Regions from separate parts of the Homo sapiens genome. Here all the other regions are linked to region 1. The links come from fine-mapping of genetic effects on gene expression. A gene starts in region 1. Each other region holds a variant in brackets. All regions are shown on one strand. Distances are from middle to middle. Region 1 holds the start of NPHP3 (nephrocystin 3). Region 2 overlaps NPHP3 (nephrocystin 3). Region 3 overlaps NPHP3-AS1 (NPHP3 antisense RNA 1).

Region 1 (5,000 bases):
CAGTAACGCAGGGCCCAAAACTCAAAAGGGCCCCATACTTGGCTTAATGCTCTGCTGTAGCCATCTTGAAAATATTTATAATTTTTGAATAAGGGGCATTACATATTCATTTTTCACTGGGTCCCACAAATTGTGTAGCTGTCTTAGCTGTCTTTTCTATGGGAGGACTATTAAAAAAAAATGTGGCCATCTTTAGTAAGTTATAAGCCACCTGCCAAATATTTTATTCTCACTATATTTCTGTATTAAAAGTTATTCTTTCAAAATGCAGACTGAAGTACGTGGGTTAAATTCAGCATGAAGAAAAACAGGTTATGAGGTTAGAAATAATGTCTTTTTTTTTTTTTTAAAGACGTAGTCTCGCTCTGTCGCCCAGGCTGGAGTGCAGTGGCGCCATCTCGGCTGCAAGCTTCGCCTCCCAGGTTCACGCCATTCTGCTGCCTCAGCCTCCCGAGTAGCTGGGACTACAGGCGCCTGCCACCACGCCTGGCTAATTTTTTTGTATTTTTAGTAGAGACGGGGTTTCACCGTGTTAGCCAGGAAGAAATAATGTCATTTTTTAGGATTAAGAAATTTGGTCACTTTGGCATTGACCAATAGTAATCTAAGATCAGTACGCAAGTAGGGTGGAGAAATGTGGATTAGAGGCATGTCACTGGATAGAAATGACGTGGGGAAAGGAGAGATGCATGCTTCAGAGCACTCAGTTCCAGACTGTAGAATCTGAATGTACTCCCCAAGCTGTAGGAAGTTAGCATAGTGAGTTTGGTTATTTGTTGGAGAGAATGGGTGATGGCTATTTTATCTTCTTACTCAAGCATAGTTATGGAAGTGTTCAGCTGAGGCCCATTCCAAAGGAGGTACTAAGATGCAAAAATGTTCAAAGGGTTTAGTCAGAAACCTAGTGGATGATCCTTAAACCCCTGATCCACATGGAGAATTCAAAAATTTGAAGTTAGAAATCAGAACGGATTTGAAAAGGTAGAAAGTTCTTAAGGTACTGTGATGGTGGAAATATTTCCCTTTATCTCAGGAGACCACCTGAAGAAATTAGTATATACACTCTGGATTTTGAAGAATGCAAAGGCCTAGTATGACTACTTCCTGAAGAAAATCTAAAGGGTAAGAGAAGAGATGACTAGCCACTTTGATGGAGGGAATGAAGGAGAGACTGGTGTGCGGTCTCCAATGTCCCATGCCGCAATGAGTTAAAAAACTTAACCTTGTCTAAGGATTGTCCCTGGTGGTTTCAGACTGTAAAATCTAAAAGCTCTTTCTTTGCTGGCATTATTCCTTGCTGGTCATTCTATCTACATGCATACTGAGAGAGAGATATCGCGGGAAGCACATAGCAGGCACTCCATAAATTTTTCAGATTTCCCAACTGCTTCCAGAAAGGAGTTTCCGGTCAGGCACGGCGGCAGCGAAAGAAATAGCTGCAGCGTTTGTAGAGCAGCTGGGACCCAGGCCTGTGCTCCCTGTGAGGCACGCCCGCCAGGGAGCCTCGAGCCGGGCGGAGACAACGGAGAGAAGCCCTATGTCGGAGCACCACTCCACCAGCGTTCGGAGCACCCCTCCACCAGCGTCCGGTCCACTGCTGGTCCTGCACAGTCGCCACTCCCCCCATCCTTCCTGCTAGCCCCGCCCTTCTTGCTAGCCCGCCTGGCCCTGTGTGCTTTCTCGACCCACCCCCGTTTGCCCTGCCCCGCCCACATGCCCCGCCCCACTTGCCCGGCCCCTCTTGTTGTCCCGCCTAGCCCTGCTGCCCCGCCCCGTCCCCCTCGCCCATCCCCCCAGTTCCGCTGCCCCGTCCCGTTCCGCTGCCCCGCCCCTCCAGTTGCCCCACCCCCTTCCGCTCTCCCTCCCCGCCCCGTTCCGCTGCCTCGCCTCGTCCGGCTCTCCGGCCCCGCCCCGCCCCGTTCCGCTGCCCCGCCCCGTCCTGCTCCCCCGCCCCGTCCTGCACCCCCGCCCCGCCCAGTTCTGCTGCCCCGCCCCTCCTGTTTCCCCGCCCCATCCCGCTCCCCCGCCTCGCCCCGTTCCGCTGCTCCGCCCCGTCCCGCTGCTCCGCCCAGTCCTGCTCTCCGGCCCCGCTCCATCCCGCTGGCCCGCCCCGTCCCGTTCCGTTCCTCTGCCCCGCCCCGTCCCGTTCCGTTCCTCTGCCCCACCCCGTCCCGTTCCGTTCCGCTGCCCAGTCCTGCTGGTACTCACTAGGTAGTAGCGGCAACGGACGCCATGGGGACCGCCTCGTCGCTCGTGAGCCCCGCGGGCGGGGAAGTGATCGAGGACACGTACGGGGCGGGCGGCGGCGAGGCCTGCGAGATCCCGGTGGAGGTGAAGCCCAAGGCCCGCCTGCTGCGCAACTCGTTCCGCCGAGGCGCGGGGGCGGCAGCAGGGGCCGGGCCCGGGTCGCTGCCCCGCGGGGTGGGCGCGGGCGGGCTGCTGGGGGCCAGCTTCAAGTCCACTGGCTCGTCGGTGCCAGAGCTGGAGTACGCGGCGGCCGAGTACGAGCGGCTCAGGAAGGAGTACGAGATCTTTCGCGTCAGCAAGAACCAGGAGTTGTTGTCCATGGGCCGCCGCGAGGCCAAGCTGGACACGGAGAACAAGCGGCTGCGGGCCGAACTGCAGGTAACGCCGGGCTGGGCCGCGACGCCGGGAGACCCTTGGGAAGCACGGCCGTCCTGCTCCCTCTCCAAACCAAGCGGCTTTGAAAGTTCGGCGGAAACTGCCCATTTTAATTTGAGAGGCCATATTCTCTTCGAGTCTGAAATGATTCCTTAACCCTCCCCTTTTTCTGTCTCTTTTTTTGGAGACAGGGTCTCGCTGCGGTGGCACGATCGCGGCTCACTGCAACCTGGAACTCCTGGGCTCAATGATCCTCCCGCCTCGGCCTCCTAAAGTTCTGGGATTACAGGAGTGAGCCACCGCGCCTGGTCCCCGCTTTTCTATTTCTGGTTTATTCATTGAGGCACCTAGAAGAAATTAGCCGGAAAGTGTCCTGAGGAGGCAAATGCCAATCTCCAGCTCCACTGCCGCCCCCGCGCCCACCCCCTCAGAAGGCTGGTGACATCTGTTGAAGCAACTCAGCAAACTCTTCCTAGGAGTTTCACCCCCCTCCCCACCATAAAAATTTTAAGTGGGTCTCCAAAGTGGGGCTCAAGTGTCGGTTTCTTTGTAAAGTTTCATCGCTCTTGCATTTTAATGGTCTTGACATGAAAATTTCTGGAAGCCTCCTGATCTCACCATGGTTGAAAACCTTCTCTAGATGTAGTCAAATTTCCCTAGTCCATTTGATTAATTTACGCTAAAAGCAATTATTGCATGCCCTCCATGTAGCAGGTCCATTATAATTCAATAAAATAGTATGTAAAGCAGCCGGGCGTGGTGGCTCACGCCTGTAATCCCAACACTTTTCGAGGCCTAGGCGGACGGATCACCTGAGGTCAGGAGTTCGAGATCAGCCTGGCCAACATGGTGAAACCCCGTCTCTACTAAAAATACAAAAATTAGCCGGGCATGGTGGCACGCGCCTGTAATCCCAGCTACTCAGGAGGCTGAGGCAAGAGAATTGCTTGAACCCGGGAGGCGGAGGTTGCAGTGAGCCGAGATTGCACCATTGCACTCCAGCTTGGGTGACAGAGCGAGACTCCGTATCAAAAAAAAAAAAATAGTATAAAGCAAGAGGTTGCTTTTCTGTGAACGAATCTCTAAAACTTTTTGCCCTCAGTTTGGGGCCCCTCTGGTCGTTGTTGTGTCGTTTGTGTACTCTTTACTGTGGGAGAGACTTATAGGCAGCCTAAGAGTTCCCGGAGTCGTTACAGTCGGGGTGAAATAAATACCTCAGACTGATTTTTCTAAAAGAAAAAAAGCCTCCTGTCTTCAAGACTAGACATTCTTCTAGTCAGGTTTTGTTGTTGTTGTTGTTGTTGTTTTTGTTTTTAAACTCCCTCATTAGCTGTTGTGTAATTATTGTCGTTGTCTGGGAAGAAGTCCGTGTAGCAGTTTATCTGTTGTCTTATCAGTTTTCCTACTGGGCAACCTTAATGCACTTGCATGTATAAAATGGACTAGTGCATTTCAAATATCTGATTCAATGTATCCAAGCCACTGCCCAACAGACACCGCACGTTGGAAACAACTGTGAGGTGGGGGTAGAAAAGGCCAAACCAAACAGGGCGGAGTGCAATAAGGGTTGGCAAGTGTCACAGTCACTCATGTCACCAATCCTGATTCCCTGTGAAACATACTGGTTCCTTTCTCACATATCGAGGCATGAAAAAACTTATCCATATTTATTTCATTCATTGTGTCAGACATTTACTGGAGACTTGCAGTGTACCAGGCACTGTGAAGTGCTCAAGGGATGGTGAGATGAATAAGACATAGTGCCAACAGGCACACAGTCTCTTAGAACTACTTATCCTTCAAGTTAAGCCTTACAAAATGTAATTTTTACTATCACAAAGATGGAAAAGGCATAAGGAAGTTTAAGAGCTGATGCAGTGTTTCAAAAAAAGTTAATTTCCATTGAAAGCTTAATGTTGGTCTTTATTTGTGGTAGTTCAAGCATGGTTGCGGTTTTTTTCCATCATGTTTTGAATAAAATGGCAACATGAAGTTCCTGATAATTGGTAAAATAATAAGTAGACTTAAAATTCTAAGATACGTAACATATATATATATATATGTATATATATAAGAATGTAAAATTGAGGAGCAAGACTATTTTTGTTAGGAAATAACAAGGTAAATTATTCTAGGCACTTCAAAAAACGTATCAGAAGATACTTCGAGAAAAAGAAAGTGCTTTAGAAGCGAAATACCAAGCAATGGAGAGAGCAGCAACATTTGAACATGACAGAGATAAAGTTAAAAGGCAATTCAAGGTAAATTCCTTACATTTTTACCCCCAAAGCAACATAGAATAAAATAGTATATTCTAAAAGTATATATAATATATAATGCGATGAATAAATAGAAGTAAGTCATGTAGGATTCAGGAA
Region 2 (5,000 bases), 25 kb after region 1:
GATGTAAATTCAGTAATAGCTAGAGCAGGCATTTATATGTTTGTGAGAAGAAAATATGATGTTATTTTTTATATTTCTGCTTTATTTCTAGGGAGGTAACATGGATTAAAAAAATATATCGTATGCCCACAGACACTAATATCTTATTAAGAAAGACCAACTGAATTTACACAATTAACAAAGACTATTCGTTCTGACATATTTTTAGGGCCTTGACATTTCCTGACGTGTCCAGAGTTCAGATTGGTGATAATAATGTTTTGCTACTTGTTCTTTTAAAATTCTAAAATAAATCACCCCAAAATAAGATTTTTATCCTTAATAAGATAAACTTAATGAGAATTTCATTTTATTTGGGGAGCTATTATTGGATTGTTTTGAAATATTTTGATTAATAGATTGAATTTTGTTTTTATATTTTTAAGCAAGTTGAAAAACACATGAAATGGCTGATAGATCCACTGCCAGTGAATGTAAGAGTAATTGTTTCTGTGAATGTAGAAACATGCCCTCCAGCATGGAGGTACGATGCCAACTTTAGTTCTTTCAGAGTACATGAAATGTTTTAAGTACAAACAAGGAAAGATTTTTAATATGCATTTATGGTTTTCACATTTTTTATGTAACTTGCAGTGAGGATGGGGAGAAGTGGGTGAATTTATGAAAAAAAAATACAATCTATAGAATTGTATAGATGGTGTGAACCTGTAATCCCAGCACTTTGGGATGCCAAGGCGGGTGGATCACTTGAGGCCAGCAGTTTGAGACCAGCCTGGCCAACATGGTGAAACCCTGTCTCTACAAAAAATACAAAAATTAGCTGGGCATGGTGGCGCATGCCTGTAATCCCAGCTACTTGGAAGGCTGAGGCAGGAGAATCGCTTGAACCTGGGAGGCAGAGGTTGCAGTGAGCAGAGATCATGCCACTGCACTTCAGCCTGGGTGACAGAGGGAGACCCTGTCTCCAAAAAAAAAGGGATTTGGGGGGAGGTTAGATAGATCTGGGATGCAAGGGAAAAGAAAGAGCCAGGATGATTCTGGAGTTTCTGACTTGAGAAATTAATTAATGTAGCTTCATGAACTGAAATAGGAAACACAAAGGACAGGCAGGTTGTGGGGAAAAGGTGATGAGTTTAGTTTTTAATCATGGTTAGTTTGAGTAGCTCCACGTAACGATGTCTAGTAGGCAGTTAAATTTATAGATGAGGAAAATAGAGAAAGGGCCGGGCTGGGAATAATAGACACCTGTTATTTTGAAATGCAAGCTCACTTTAATGGTTCTTTAAAAAGTAGTAGAGTGGCCGGGCATGGTAGCTCACATCTGTAATCCCAGCACTTCGGGAGGCCAGGGCGGGTGGATCACCTGAGGTCAGGAGTTCAAGACCAACCTGGCCAACATGGTGAAACCCATCTCTACCAAAAATACAAAAATTAGCCAGGCATGGTGGCGGGTGCTTGTAATCCCATCTACTCGGGAGGCTAAGGCAGAAGAATCGCTTGAACCCAGGAGGTGGAGGTTGTAGTGAGCTGAGATTGCACCACTGCACTGCAGCCTGGACGACAAGAGTGAAACTCCCATCTCAAAAAACAAACAAATGGCTGGGCGCAGTGGCTCATGCCTGTAATCCCAACACTTTGGGAGGCCGAGGCGGGTGGATCGGGAGGTCAGGAGTTCAAGACCAGCCTGGCCAACAGTGAAACCCCGCCTCTACTAGAAATATAAAAAATTAGCCAGGCGTGGTGGTGGGCGCCTGTAATCCTAGCTACTTGGGAGGCTGAGACAGGAGAATCACTTGAACCTGGGAGGCAGAGGTTGCAGTGAGCCGAGATGGCACTACTGCACACCAGCCTAGGCAACAGTACGAGACTCTGCCTCAAAAAAAAAAAAAAGTAGAGCAATTGGATCCCATGGAGCAGTGTTTCTCAACCTGTTTTTGCTCCTATAAGGAGCCATTTTAGACATTTTATTTGTAATTGCCTCCCCCAAGAAATTTTAATACCACACACATATTGTATATCAGCTTGTGTATATAGATATATGTGTCTATGTGTACTTTATACATAAAAAGAGTAAGTTTTTTCACTCCCCCACAAATGCAATTTTCAGTACCATATCAAGAATGTATATTGTAATAGTTAAATTTCAGTTGCATTACAAGTGCTTGTGGACAATAATTGTGTCTGATGCCACTCCTCATAGATACTCATACCTATGCTTAGTTTTACTGATAGTATGGAACATAGAACTAGAAATGTTTTACCATGTAACTATCTAATGTATATACTGTTTATTTTATAACACTGTTTGTTGTGATTCATTGCTCAAAGTAATGATACACATATTAGAAT[A/GAGTA]AGATATATTAATTACTTAATATGATTAATAGACATTAGTTTTGCTTATTTTACAAAAGCAGTATAAAGTGTTAATTCCTGTGGTGGATTTTAAATTGTGTTATGGGTAATTACAGTTCTTGTTGTATTATTAAAATTTCATTTTTCTTTTCTTTACATAAAAGGTTGTGGCCTACACTTCATCTTGATCCCTTAAGTCCAAAAGATGCAAAATCTATTATAATTGCAGAATGCCACTCTGTAGACATTAAATTGAGTAAAGAGCAGGTGTGTATTTTTCATTTTGATGCAATCTTTTACTCTCTCATCTTTCCTATGAAACATCTTATGTGAGACTTAAAATTCAATATAGGGGATCTGTTATAAGGAAAACTGGAGTTTAGTAATTACTTTGGTAAATGTATTGCCTCTTAAACTAATGACAGGTAGAAAAGAAGCAATAAAAAGATTTTGGTCTTAAGGTTGACTTTAGTATATAATATTAAGCAGGTATTTTAAAAGCAAAAGAGCATTTTCATACTGGCCATATCTGTGGTCTGCAGTTGGAAGGCTGCCCACAGCCGAGGAGCCACCACTGCATGTTGTGATGTCACGGATGGCAGCAATAGTGTTATTTCTGTCGGGGTACTTGTTGATGGCTGGGTAGTAAAGACCGCTTAATTCCAGGGTGGTTTTTGTATTTCTGTTTTGTTTTTCTTGGTAAACTGGTGCAGGAGAAGAAGCTAGAACGACACTGTCGTTCTGCTACAACCTGCAATGCCCTTTATGTCACCCTTTTCGGCAAAATGATCGCGCGGTGAGTGGTGATTATTTTACATGATCTTCTGCATGTTTTGTGTTTGCTGCAGACCCTTTCTCACCCTGCAAAACTGAGAACTGATCACTACACCAGTCTGTTGAGCCACTCAGATTTTATTTGAATAGTGATACTAACATTTGTGAGAACATGGCTTACAGGTGCCTACTGTCCATGATTGTCAGAACTTGATAGATTTGTCTAATTTTCTTCACACTAATCTGTTCCCTATTGGAGGTTGCAAAAGAAAGCCATCCTCACCCTCATTTGTGGCCCCTAGCTTTGGGAAAGTGAAGGAAACAACTGAGGGTTACAATATTATTTCAGGTATCTTTGAATATCAGGAGGTAGATATATGGATATGAATTTTTAATTGTCTCTGTTCTCAAGTCCTGATAAACTTTTTAATTATAAAAATAGTTCTATTTTAGATATCCATTAGTAATCTGCCTTTAGATAAGCATTAGAGTATCACTACTTTTATTTCCTCAGTATAGCTTTACCCTATTCTATCTATTCTCAACCGTTAGAATGTTTTACTACTTTTATTTCTTCTTCAGTATAGCATCACTCTACTTTGTCTTTTCTCAATCTGAGGTAAAAAAAAAAAAGATTAATACATTTTTTGTTATTCATTGCAATAGATGGCAATTCTAGCACACATATTTCCAGACACCGAATCTAGTACTTCTTGTCTCTTTATTCCATGTTCTCATCTTGAGAACCAAATTTGAAATAAAAAAATCTTCTGAAACTTTACATTGCCCATGATATTTCATCTTTGTTTTTGTTTTTGAGACAGTGTCTCACTCTCTGTTGCCCAGGCTGGAGAGCAGAGGCTTGATCTCGGCTCACTGTAACTTCTGCCTCCCAGACTCAAGCGATCCTCCCACCTCAGCCTCTTGAGTAGCTGGGACTACAAGAGCACACCACCATGCCTGGCTTATTTTTGTATTTTTAGTATAAGCGGGGTTTTGCCATGATTGCCAGGCTGGTCTTGAACTCCTGGGCTCAAGCAATCCACCTGCTTAGCCTCCCAAAGTGCTGGGATTACAGCATGTGAGCCACTGTACCCAGCCTGCCTGTGATATTTCCACTGTCCTTTTCCACTGTTAGTTGTAGCAACACATCTGGCCTCTGTGAACATCAGTGATACAATGAGTATGATTCAAGAGTGTGAGTAATTTTTCATACATTTAATAATGTTCATTGAAAGTATTTTACTGTTTTTATTTTTGAAAGTACCTATTTTAAAGAGACTATGGACCCTTTGTTTTTTCTCTTTGTACATCTTTATATTATTTTTAAAAACTGGTAAATATTGTGTAATCTTTTAAAACATACCCCCCTATTTAATGATTTTCTTTAGCCTTGTGTTTTCAAAATTCTGGCTCCACACAAATTTAATTTGCATGGCTAACTAACAATACTTATCATCGTTTCCCTGCTTCCTGTATGTAGGTGGCATGCTTCTGGATAATAAGAACCGTGTCTGACTCATTTTTATGTTCCATAATGCATAGTAATTGCTTAACAAATAATAGATTTCAGCATGTTTATTGCACTGAATTAAATTATATATAGTAAAATAAACCCAATGACTCTAGCAGCCCCATAAAACTACCACTTTCCTTTATCATGTTTTATTGAATTTGTTATTGGTTGCAGTACAAAAAATAGAGTTCACGTTGTTTTTAATCGATCTCAAAATTTTCACAGATGTTGGCAATCTGTAAGAAATTAAATCTCTTCTCGATTCCAACAGTGCTGGGAGAGCAGGCAATTTAGATAAAATCCTTCATCAGTGTTTCCAGTGTCAAGATACTCTTTCATTATATAGACTTGTTCTGCACTC
Region 3 (6,728 bases), 110 kb before region 1:
AAGCTAGAGACTTAAAATTTCCTGCAATGTGCAGGATAGTCTTACATGTGAAAGAATTGTCCTGCTTCAATGCCAATTGGTCTTTCATTGAAAATGCTTTCAGTCCAACTATTTATTTTTTTAATTAGAAATTTGTCCCAGGCAAGCTGGGTATGGTGGCTCACACCTGCAATCCCGACACTTTGGAAGGCCTAGGTGGGAGGATCCCCTGAGCCCAGGAGTTTAAGGCCAGCCTGAGCAACAGGGTGAAACCTGGTCTCTATAGAAAAATACAAAAATTAGCCATGTGTGGTGGTGCACACCTGTAGTCCCAGCTACTTGGGAGGCTGCAGTGGGAAGAATCCCTTGAGCCCAAGAAGTCAAGGCTTCAGTGAGCCATGATAGCACCACTGCACTCCAGCATGGGCAATACAGCAAGACCCTGCCTCAAAAAAAAAAAAAAAAAAAAAAAGGAAAAAAGAAAATTTTCCCAAGAGATTAAATGACCTTCTCTGGATCCCACAGCTATCTGAGTTGCTATTAACACCCAGCTCCTTAAACCATGGCATGGGTGGCCAAATGGCATCTGGTAGCAAAATGTATTTGTCCTGTCACTCCCTAAGCTGCACTAGATTTTCATGAGAAGTAAATGAATACATAGCAAAAGATGTTTTCATGCAGTTTACCATCCTTAGGGTAAAATTCCAAGAACAAGTCCTCTACTGTGGGCTTGTGATGCCCCCATATACGGTCACCCGAGAACATATAGAACTCTCTGCACTCCTTTTGCTGCAATGTGATGACAGTGACTGTTTGGCTTGTAAAGCCTAAAATATCTACCACCTGGCCCTTTAAGAAAAAATTTACCAATCTGTGACATCAGTTATTACAATACTGTACAGTTAGTGTGACAACAGAGGTAAGTGCCAAGGGCTATGGGAGCACCGAGGAGTCAGTAATTAGAGGAGTCAAGGAAAGCTTCCCAGGAAAGTAGATATTGAAGGATAAATAGTTGGAAAATGGGTTATATTATAGGCTGAATTGTTTCCTTCCACCAAAGTCCTGTGTTGAAGCCCTAACCCCAGTACCTCAAAATATGACAGTATTTGAAGATAGGGCCAATAAAGAGGTGATTAAGTTAAAACAAGGCCCATAGGGTGGGCCCTAATCCAATCAAACTGGTGTCTTTATAAGAAGAGAAGGTTAGGACACTCAAACGACATGCCAGGGTGCGCGTGCACAGAGTGACGACCATGTGAAGAGGCAGCGAGAGGGCCGTCATTTGTGAGCCAAGGAAAGGAGCTGCAGAGGAAGCCAACTTGGCTGGCACCTAGATCTTAGACTTCTAGCTTCCAGGACTGTGGGAAAATAAATTTCTGTTGCTTAAGCCTCCCATCTGTGGTATTTAGTATTGCAGCCCCAGCAAACCATTACAAGATAGAATAGAAAGATACTTTAGCTCATGGTGAGAGCATCAGGGACTAGAAGAGCTATATTTGCAGCAAATGGCGAGAGTGTGTCATTACAGGATTGTGGATATGGGAGCCTGCGAGGTGGCGGAGAAAATATAAGATGGAAGAGGGACTATAAATGCTGAAGCGTTCATTTAATTCCCTGGGCAGACAGTGAGCTTCTAGAATTTGGTTTCCAGAATGGTAATTCTGATGGTAGATGAGAGAATAGTTCCAGGGAAACCAGTAGGGTAGCTTGAAATTTATGAGCAAGAGATAAGGAGAACCTGATCTATGGTGCTGTCCATGGGATGCAAAAGTGTGAGTGGATTTAAGAAGCATTTCAGAGGAAAAAAACTAAAAAGATTCTGTTGGCCAACTGGAAGCAGAGGAAATGGTACAGCAAAACTCTATCTGCAATAAAATCAAATTTCCACAAGTTCGAAACTGGTCCTTAACCCAACTGGATACTCATTCCTTGCCCAGAGATTACAGAAAACATTCTTTTCAAGGAACAAATAAACTGTACTTAAGTTTTAAGATGGGTAAAAGAAATTAAAAAATGACTTAACCTGAAGGAATTTCTGGATAGAAATTCCTGGATAGAGAAAATTAGGTGTCATAAATTAGAGAAGAGAAAGAGATGGTTTTAATGGATAATTAAAACTAGACAGGACAATGAAAGATAGTTTATCAATACAGCATTAGGAAGTGTTGGAATGATGTGTATATGGGCCTTACAAGGCAAAAGGAGATGGCAGCCTTAAAAATGAGATCTGCTTCTATGAGGATGGGTTAGAAATTTATTACTTTAATATAAATTTTAAATTGATGCCAGAGTTTTAAATAATAACAGCATTGTTACACAAAATGTGGGTGTTTTTATCCTGCATTCGAACGTTTGCTCTTAGTAATGTTCTTTGAAACTGATAACCTAATTATACAGATGTTCATTCTTGTATGTAGTCAAAAAAGAACCAGCCTAGCCACACTCAATGCCTGAAGATACCCTCTTTTTAGAGGCCTTATTTGAAGGGCCTTAGATCCACTGGAATTGAAGATAGCAAAATCTCGGTGATTTAAAACACAAAAAATTTCTTTGCTGATCATGCCTCAAAGCCATTGTGAGTTGTCATTCTCAGTGAGAGATTCAGGCTACTGGAGAAGGCTGATCTTAGAGGTGGTCAGTTGTCATAGTAGAGGAAAAGAGAATGTGGCAAAACATACTTTGACTCTATCCAGATATATTATGAATCATTGGCCAAAGCAAGTCACACAGCCACACTTACCATGGAAGGTGTAGAAAATAAAATCCTACTACGTGCTCTGAAGGAAAGAGTGCTGGAACATCTGTGAAATAGAACATTTGGGAAAAGTTTTAATGAATACCTAGAGCAGACTGTGGCTTAGGTCTTCAAAGCATGACCAGTAACCTTGACTTTGTATTTTTATGTGATGGAACTTACAAACTTTTCACAAAGAGCCTATTTTAAGTGAGCATTTCAGTGAAATGTTAAAAGGTATATAAGAAAGTTCATTTTTTACCGTTCATTTATAATCTTGAAAGTCATAATGCCCAACAAGTATACTAATAATAACAATAGCTAACATTTATTGAATACTGACTACATTTTGGGCACTATTCTAAGCACTTTACTTGTATTACCTAATTTTATCTCACAATAACCTTACTGAGAAGACAAAATTATTATCCCAATTACAGATAAGCAATTTGGGACACATGTAATTTTTCCAAGGCTGTACAGCCAGTACATGGCAAAGTTAAAAATATCAAACCAAGCAAAATATTTCCAGAGTATGGCTGCTTAATCACTTATTATTTGCATAATTAATAGCAAATAAAAATAAATACACATTTAATTGAAAAGGCATTTTAGTAGCTGAGCAAATGAAACCAAATTACAATGATTTGATGTTTCATTTTCATTGCTATCAACATTGCAACATTCACATACTTCTAATACCACTGGATGTTTTTACTGAATTGTTATATCACCTTTATCCATGACATAATCAGGAACTAGATATTAATATTTTAAAACACCACTATTAGATTTAAGTCCTTAATCCATCTCGAGTTGACTTTTGTATAAGGTGAGAGAAAACGATCCAGATTCATTCTTCTTCATGTGGCTTGCCAA[C/T]TATCCTAGCACCATTTGTTGAATAGGGTGTCCTTTCCTCACTTTATGTTTTTGTTTGCTTTATCAAAGATCAGTTAGCTGTAAGTATTTGGCTTTATTTCTGGGTCCTCTATTCTGTTCCATTGGTTTATGTGCCTATTTTTATACTATAGTCACCATGCTGTTTCGGTGACTATGGACTTATAGCATAGTTTGAAGTCAGTTAATATGATGCCTCCAGGTTTGTTCTTTTCACTTTGGCTATGTGGGCTCTTTTTTGGTTCCATATGAATTTTAGGATTGTCTTTTCTAGTTCTGTGAAGAATGACTTGAAACCATAAAAATTCTAGAACATCAAAAAAACCCTTCTAGACATTGGCTTAGGCAAAAACTTCATGACCAAGAACCCCAAAGTAAATGCAACAAAAACAATGATAAATAGATGGGACTTAAACTAAAATGTCTCTAAAAAGCAAAAGAAACAATCAGCAGAGTAAACAGACAACCCACAGAGTGAGAGAAAATCTTCACAATCTATATATCCGACAAAGGACTAATATCCAGACTCTACAGGGAACCCAAACAAATTACCAAGAAAAAAAAAATCCCATCAAAAAATGGGCTAAGGACACGAATAGACAATTCTCAAAAGAAGATATACAAATGGCCAACAAGCATATGGAAAAATGCTCAACATCACTAATGATCAGGGAAATGCAAATCAAAACCACAATGCGATACCACCTCACTCCTTTAAGAATGGCCATAATCGAAAGGTAAAAAAAAAAAAAAAAATAGATGTTGGCAGCAATGCAGTGAAAGGGGAACACTTTCACACTGCTGGGAATGTAAACTAGTACAACCGCTGTGGAAAACAGTGTGGAGATTCCTTAATGAACTAAAAGTAGAACTACCATTTGATGCAGCAATCCCACTGCTGGGTATCTACTCAAAGGAAAAGAAGTCATTGTACGAAAAAGATACTTGCACACACACGTTTATAGCAACACAATTTGCAACTGCAAAAATATGGAACCAGCCCAAATTCCCATCAATCAATGAGTGGATAAAGGAATTGTGAGATATACACACACACACACACACACACACATATACACACACACACACATATATATACACACATACACACACACACACACACACACACACACACATACCATGGAGTACTATTCAGCCATAAAAAGGAATGAAATAATGGCATTCACAGCAACCTGGATGGAGTTGGAGACCATTATTCTAAGTGAAGTAACTCAGGAATGGAAAACCAAACATCGTATCTTCTCACTTATAAGTTGGAGCTAAGCTATGAGGATGCAAAGGCATAAGAATGATATAATGGACTTTGCGGGCTTGGGGAAAAGGGTAAGAGGGGGTGAGGGATAAAAGCCTACAGACTGGGTACAGTGTATCTCAAGCAGCAGGCAATTCCTCGGGTGATGGGTGCACCAAAATCTCAGAAATCACCACTGAAGAACTTATTCACGTAACCAAACACCACCTGTTCCCCAAAAACCTATGGAAATAAAAAATAAATTAGTAAATCGAAAGAAAAAAAAACACTTTTTCTAAAGGAACTCACAGCACCAGAGGCATGTGATATTTTATGTAAAATTTACCTTATGGACTATAAGATTCTAATTCCTTCAGATCAATGTAATGAACTATTTTTGCTAAACTACATACAGCCACCTGTACTCCTCCACTACTTTCTTCTGGAAATCACCCCTTCCCATCCTCTGCCCCACTCTATCAAGATGGTAAACTCTAGACTAATCATCTTGCACAAAGTGTCCCTGGCTTCAGTTAATTGGTCCAGGAGAAGATATGTAGGCCAATCACCTCCCATGACCTGTCCTGGCTAGCAGATTGGTTCTAGGGTAAGCATAGTATCCAAGCTGACCACTTAGGGTCCTTCACCAGGGATTTGGCCATTGAAAACAAGGAAGGTCAATCTCTTCCCAGGTGACTGAAATTATAAATGAAAAACTCAGATAGGTTCTGTTAACAGCCATGTTTCCTTCCCATGTGAGCAGAGTATGCCAGTTGAGAGAGTGAGAAAGAAAGAAATGAAGTACAAAATAAAGATAAAGACACAGAAAGGCAAAAGGTGAAGTCAGAGGTCTGCTGAACATTGGCAGCCCAGCCCCACTTCTGCTCTTGAGATCTTTGAGACACCACAGCATCTCTGCTCCAACCACTGTTACTTGGCTTTCTATCATTTGCAACCAAAATAGTTCAAATTAAGGTAATCAATTTCTCAAATTCTTTATCCAACTGGAGTATTAATTAAAGATTTAAAAAAGAACATATGTGCAATCATGGTTCTTATGATTCACCAAAGGAAATAAAGTGATCAAAACTGAACAGAAGGTTGAAGGGATTTCATGATGGATAATTACTCATATAACGCAACCACAAGAAAAGGGGTAATTCCGAGTTTTCTCTAATTTTTGCCTGTGCTTGCAAAAGGATAAAGAAGCCAGAATCCACATGGTATCTACTGGTTACAAAGAAAGGAGCAATAATAGGATAAAAATAATTTGAAGCATGCTATCAAATGAGTTGAAACCCAATTTCTGCATCCCTGATGGGTGGCCAAATTTTAGGGACACCCCTTTTCCAAAGCTCTCTTGTAACATTCTCATACCTTTGAGATTCTGATAGGATCCTATCTTCCCGGGCTAAAAAATAAATTCCTCCTCAAGACATTGATTATGGAAATGGTCATCAGAATTCCTCTCCATGATCATGAGACACTAGAATTTGGAGGGGGGCCAGCTTCACTTAAGAAGGTGTTTTTCTAACCCCCTTCTCTTTTAACCCCCTAAATTCTCCTGATAGCCATTTTGACAATGTTTCAAACTGAACAGGTTTTTAAAGTAAAAAGAAATCATATTATATCATCATTATCAATTCAATCAATCCTTAATTATTTGATGGGAATAAAATGTGAATTATGTCAAGCAGCAGATAATTACAATTTAACTCTTAAACTAGTTTATTTGCTTTGTGGACTTCCCAAGATCTCTTCCCCACCATCATACCACAGGATTCTAGGTTATAAAAGAAGTATCAAGTTGGAAGAAACTTGGAGCTAGGAATAGAAGAGAAGAGTTTTGACTGTCAGTAAATATGG

Evidence for each region. PIP is the estimated chance that this variant, and not a neighbour inherited with it, causes the effect.
Region 2: its variant is fine-mapped to the expression of NPHP3 in tibial nerve (GTEx, PIP 0.98).
Region 3: its variant is fine-mapped to the expression of NPHP3 in unexposed skin (GTEx, PIP 0.94).

The regions. Positions count from the first base shown.
Region 1 is chr3:132,719,588-132,724,587 of GRCh38, reverse strand. NPHP3 (nephrocystin 3) reads left to right here and starts at 2,179. Exons shown (of 27, transcript NM_153240.5): 1 at 2,179-2,625; 2 at 4,758-4,883. The coding sequence starts at 2,233. It overlaps NPHP3-ACAD11 (NPHP3-ACAD11 readthrough (NMD candidate)), which reads left to right and starts at 2,129. Exons shown (of 45, transcript NR_037804.1): 1 at 2,129-2,625; 2 at 4,758-4,883. NPHP3-AS1 (NPHP3 antisense RNA 1) reads right to left here and starts at 2,838. Exons shown (of 11, transcript NR_002811.2): 1 at 2,209-2,838. RefSeq lists an enhancer at 1,233-1,422 and silencers at 1,663-2,172, 2,273-2,522.
Region 2 is chr3:132,694,876-132,699,875 of GRCh38, reverse strand. It overlaps NPHP3 (nephrocystin 3), which reads left to right. Exons shown (of 27, transcript NM_153240.5): 13 at 426-523; 14 at 2,514-2,616; 15 at 3,063-3,145; 16 at 4,911-5,000. It overlaps NPHP3-ACAD11 (NPHP3-ACAD11 readthrough (NMD candidate)), which reads left to right. Exons shown (of 45, transcript NR_037804.1): 13 at 2,514-2,616; 14 at 3,063-3,145; 15 at 4,911-5,000. Among named protein-coding and RNA genes, the nearest start is that of NPHP3-AS1, 24 kb to the left of the region's middle. The variant A/GAGTA (reference allele first, on the strand shown) is at 2,350.
Region 3 is chr3:132,823,998-132,830,725 of GRCh38, reverse strand. It overlaps NPHP3-AS1 (NPHP3 antisense RNA 1), which reads right to left. Exons shown (of 11, transcript NR_002811.2): 9 at 2,720-2,780. Among named protein-coding and RNA genes, the nearest start is that of NPHP3-ACAD11, 100 kb to the right of the region's middle. The variant C/T (reference allele first, on the strand shown) is at 3,593.